Linked DNA regions of Homo sapiens: region 2 is linked to region 1. Evidence: fine-mapped expression QTL. A gene starts in region 1. The other region holds a variant in brackets. All regions are shown on one strand. Distances are from middle to middle. Region 1 holds the start of ZNF574 (zinc finger protein 574). Region 2 overlaps GRIK5 (glutamate ionotropic receptor kainate type subunit 5).

The links.
Region 2: its variant is fine-mapped to the expression of ZNF574 in skeletal muscle (GTEx, PIP above 0.99).

Annotation. Positions count from the first base shown.
Region 1 is chr19:42,074,622-42,077,629 of GRCh38, reverse strand. ZNF574 (zinc finger protein 574) reads right to left here and starts at 1,464. Exons shown (of 2, transcript NM_022752.6): 1 at 1,344-1,464. RefSeq lists silencers at 1,045-1,124, 1,135-1,394 and enhancers at 1,765-1,884, 2,105-2,154, 2,235-2,304.
Region 2 is chr19:42,037,695-42,040,194 of GRCh38, reverse strand. The region is part of intron 12 of GRIK5 (glutamate ionotropic receptor kainate type subunit 5); the gene reads left to right. Among named protein-coding and RNA genes, the nearest start is that of GRIK5, 31 kb to the left of the region's middle. The variant G/A (reference allele first, on the strand shown) is at 1,348.

The sequences.
Region 1 (3,008 bases):
CCTCTGAGATACCCAGATCCCCTCTTCCCATTGATTTAAACCCTTCCTGTTCATACACAGCCACTCATTCAGGGATGCCCATACCCTCATTTTATATCAACCTATGCCTCTCTTGCAAACAGAGCCCCCCCTCAAATCCATCTCAGGAATATCCAGATCCTCCTCCACATTATTAACCTAATCTTTTTTAATTTGCTAGAAGACCCAACCCACCCTAACCCATTCTAGGGATGCTCAGACCCTCCTCTTCGTAGCAACATAACTCCTCTTCTTTGTGTAAAGATCCACACACCCATCTTTCACAATGGCTTAAGCTCCTTTTACACACACCCCTCGTGCTGCCCAAACCCCCTTTAGGGATACCCGGACCTCCTATTCTCATACAGAACCTCCATCACCACCTTAATCCAGCACAGACCCCTCTTCCTCACACTCAAGCCCCTCTCACCAGCCTCCTATTCTGGGGGTACTCAGACCCCCCAGCGTCTTAGCAACCTCTCAGTCTCATTCCAGGAATTCCCAGGCACCCCTCACTTTAGCACACAGATCTCTCCCACCCTACTTCCTCCCCTTCCAATAACCAAATCCCATCTTCACCTTGGCCTAATTACCTGTACTTAAAAAAGACTACCTTCCCCAGCTCATTCTAGGGACACCCAGACACCCTTTTAAAATACACTTAATCCTTCTTTGTACAAAGACTCCTTTCCACGCATTCCAAGGGTACCCAACCTCCTGACACATTGGTTTAAGGCCTCTTCACATTAATTTAACCCCATCCATTACAACTGGACCCCTCCTTAGCTCTAAACCGTTCCCTTGGGGATATCGATTTCCTAATGTCTTCACACCAAAACCCCTCTCACCGCCCCAATTCTTTCCAGGAAGAACTAGATATTTTTCCCCTGCATTAACTTAATTATCTTTCTCACGCCCTAAGCCCCTAACTGGGCACCCACGTGCCGTCTAACCGGCCCAGCCCCTTCGTCCTGGACTTGCCACACCACCAAGTCCTTTACCCCAAACCCTGGGGAGCCGCGGAGCCCTCTTGGGACAGCTCTGAGGCCTCCCCTTCCCGCCCAGGTGCCCCACCAAAGCCTCAGCCCGAGCCCCGCCCCTCCTCACTCAGCCCCGCACGCGACTCCAGGCCCCTTCCCCACCCGCCGCTCCAGCCCGGCCCCCGCCCGGCTGCCCGCGCGCCGGGTCGGCCGTTGGTGCCGCTCCGCCCTAACTGCCCGGCGCGCACCCCCTCAGGCCCTCAGTGCGCAGGCGACCTGGCAAGAGGAGGCCGCGGCGGCAGGGAGCGCAGCCCGGCCGGCCTCTGCGCGCCCGCTCGCGCTCACCTGCTTCCGCCGTCTCGCACGCCCCGGGCCCGGGCCACGGCTCCCCTTGCACGGCCACCCTAACGCTGCGCCCGCTCTAGCTCTCGCCGTCGCCTCTCGCCTGCTCCGTAGCCTCGCTCTCGCCCCCAGCTACCCTCAGCAACGCCCCTCCCACCTTCCTCCTCGGCCGCCGCACGGACGGCCGGACGCAACCAATCATTGCCCGCTCGGGCCCTGCCGTTCGGCCAATCGACGTTCATGTCTCTGAGGCTTGGGCCAATAGTGAGGAGCGTCGAGATTCCCCGCAGCGCCCAACCAATCCTTTAGCGTCGTTCCCTCACCGGTCAGCCCTCGGGTGGATAGTGCCCGCCCCTTTAATCCTCCTTAGAGGATGCTCCTCCTCCTCCTCGACTCCGCCTCCGACGGCTCCAGAGGGGAACTCTGAGCGGAGGGCGGCGCGATGACGTTAGGCGGCGGAGCGCGGCCGCGGGCGCCATTTTGGGGACGCCGTGAGGGAGTCAGCGTTGGGGACAGGGAGAGGGAGGAAAAGAGCCTGGGAAATTGAGGCACGCGGCACCTTGAGGGCTGGAGCGGGGGAATGGAGGCACGGGAACCTTTGTGGTTTCCCCGAGGGTCAGAGGGAGAAAGTGAAACCACTTAGCGCGATGGGGAGAGGGCAAACTGCATGCAGCACCAGTCACATGGAGAGAGAAAAGGGAAACCAAGGTTCCAGACTCACTTTATTAAAAGGAGGGGAATGAAGGCAACAGGAAGAAACAGAGAAAAGACCGAGGGGACTTTTGGGAGGTGGAGAGAGGAGAAATGTCATAGGGGAAGCAAGGAGAGCGAGGATATGGAGAAAAAGAAGCAGGGACAATTTCATTGGAAGAAATAGGGAGTGTGGTGGGTAGAGGACCTGAAGGACAATCGGGGTGAGAGCCTGAAGGAAGTGAGCCGGTAACGGGCGGACTCCACTCCACCTCCTTCCGGGGTGACTCTGACCCTTACACCTCGAGATTGGGGCCCCATGTGTCCAAGGGGCTCTGGCCATTCCTACTCACCTCGTTCCTGCGCCCCTCAGGGCCTTGGGAGGGAGTTGCCCCAGTACTGTTAGAAACGTTTCCAGGCTGGGCGTGGTGGCTCACGCCTGCAATCCCAACATTTTGGGACGCTGAGGCGGGTTCACTTGAAGTCAGGCATTCGAGACCCACCTGGCCAACCTGGTGAAACTACCATCTTTACTAAAAATACAAAACATTAGCTGGGCGTGGTGGCTCGTGCCTGTAACCCCAGCAACTCGGGAGGCTGAGGCTCGAGATTTGATTGCACCCAGGAGGCCGAGGTTGCAGTGAGCCGAGATCACGCCACTGCACTCCCGCCTGGGCGACAGAGCGAGACTCCATCTGAAAGAAGAAAAGAAACATTTCCAGACCTACTCCTTGAACCCAAACACAGAGGAATTTCAACTTATCGGATGAGGAAACTGACTCTCAGAATTGTGTTATTTATTTACTTACCTGAAGCCACTATGGGATGCGTCTCACAGTGAGACCCGGGGCCAATTCTATGGCCATTTGGTCACTAGATGTCCTAACCTTCTCATGGATTAAATTCCCTAACACCAGGCATGTATAGTTAAAACAGATTCCCGGATTGGAATCCTGGTTCTAGGGCAAGTCAACTGTC
Region 2 (2,500 bases), 37 kb after region 1:
TGTTTAAAGCTTAGCTCTGCTGTGCACTGGTTGTGTGGCTTTGGGCAAGTGCTTAACATTTCTTTAGGTTGTAGTTTGTTCAACTGTAAAATTGGGGAATAACAGCCCTTTAGCACATAGGGTTGTTTTGAAGAACAACATGCAGTGAAGAACTTAGAACAGGGCCTGGTGCATAGTGGGTGCTGTATGCGTGTGTCCTTTTTTTTTTTTCCTTTGAGACTGGGTCTCTCTCTGTTGCCCAGGCTGGAGCGCAGTAGTGCAATCACAGCTCACTGCAGCCTCCACCTCCTGGGCTCAAGCGATCCTCCCACCTCAGCCTCCCGAGTTGCTGGGACTATAGGCATATGCCATAATGCCTAGGTAATTTTTGTGTTTTTTGTAGAGATGGGGTCTGGCCCTGTTGCCTAGGCTGGTCTTGAACTCCTGGGCTTAAGCAATCCTCCCACCTCAGCCTTCCAAAGTGCTGGGATTATACTATTTTTATTATTGTTATTATTCATACCAGCATGGCCAGCACATACATAGATTTGTGTGTTCATCCATTTTCCATTCAGCCAATGTTTGTTGAGTGCCTACTGTATACCAAGCCCTGTGCTATACCCTGGGGATACCATGGTGAACAAGCCCGATGTGCTCTTACTGAGTGGGCTAAAGGGTTTGGGCCTCAGCAGAAAGCCCATGGGATGCCCTTGAAGAGTTTTGTTTTTGTTTTTGTTTTGAGACGGACTCTGGCTCTGCTGCCCAGGCAGGCTGGAGTGCCATGGGGTGATCTTGGCTCACTGCAACCTCTGCCTCGTGGGTTCAAATGATTCTCCTGCCTCAGCCTCCTGAGTAGCTGGGACTACAGGCGCATGCCACCACACCTGGCTAATTTTTGTATTTTTAGTAGAGATGGGTTTCGCCATGTTGGCCAGGCTGGTCTCAAACTCCTGAACTCAGGTGATCCACCTGCCTCAGCCTCCCAGAGTGCTGGGATTACAGGCATGAGCCACCATGCCCGGCCACCCTTGAAGGGTTTTGATCTGGCTCAAGTGAATTGGCCCTGGGGTTGGGGGAAGCAGTGGTAACAGGAAGACCAGTGAGGAGATAAGGAATGAGCTGGTGGGCCTCAGGCGGGAGAACGTCAGAGCTAGAGACTAGGGGAAGGGCTAAAGAGCACCAGGGCTTGGTGACTGCCTAGGGTGGGGGATGCAGGAGAGGACAGGAGGGAGAGCATTCCTCCTGTGTCTGGCTTGGGCATCTGGGTGATGGCAATGACATTTACAGGGAGAACACTGGAGGAGGAGCTGGAGCGTGAAGGATAGGCGGAGTTTGGCCTTGCCCTGCTGTGGGATAGCCGAGTGTGCC[G/A]AGCTGCACAGGAATAGTCACCACCGTCATCACAACAGCAGCAGCTGTCATTTGTTGATTTCACACCATGTGCGAGGAACTTTTCAAGTGTTACTTAACATAATTTTCATAGCAGTCCTTCATGGCCTGAGGATCACTGCCCAGTGTGAGATCTGGAGTCCCCAGTGCACAGGGCTGCAGCCAGGTGTGTCTGACTTAAGGCCCGTGCCCTTTCCAGCCCTCCAGCTGGGAACTTGGGAAGCTCGGAGTACACTGATGGAGTGGCACGCTGTGCCAGGCCCTTGTCTGAGCTTTCTGACTTGTCTCCATCCTTGACTCCTCATGGCCACCCAGTGAGAGAGGGACTGGTATTAGCCCCGTTTTCTCAAATGTACAGTGAGGCATCAAGGTTTCATGTCCAGGCCCATGGCTAGTGACCAGGAGAGCCAAGGTGGGCACCCCATCAGGGTGGCCCAGAGCTGGTGAGTGACTTCCAGATGGAAGACAGCCTGGGGCACCACCATCCTGCCAGTCACCCCTGGGCCAGGCACAGGTCTCCTTGGCCTGTCTTGAATTATGACCCATTTTTTCCACCCAGTGGCCATGGCTGACATTGGCCTTCTCCCTGCCATCACTGCCATGGTGTGAATTCAGGTCCCACCCCTCTCATCAGCCTCCTTACTGGCCTCCTGGCTTCTAGTCTCTCCACTCCCCAGCTTGTCCTCCAATAGAACCTTTCTACAGTGTGAGTCTGATCTGTCACTTGTATGCTTTAACTGAAGCCCCTGAGGCCCTCAGGATAAAGCTTAGCCTTCAAGGGCAAAGAAGATCTTAGGTCAGGGTCCCAGGAAGCTGACTCTGAGATGGAGATGTAGAGGCAGGAGGTGTGATGGCGTGCCCCTGGAAACCTGCCCTGTGCAGGAGGGAAGGAAGCAGGCTTGGGCAGAGGAGTTGAGCTGCGCTGCAGTCACAACTGGGCCTTAGCTGTCCCACAGGCAGCTCTGGAGCTGAGCTGGCCGTCAAGGACCTCCCCCTGTGGTAAGGGTGCCAGGCCTTTAAGCACCCACTGATATGTCACTGGACGTGGGCTGCTCTTGGGGAGAGTCAGGACTTTGGGTGAGGGGACGCTCTTCTACTGACAGAGCTGAGAGCCATCAGCCACCTACACCCTGGG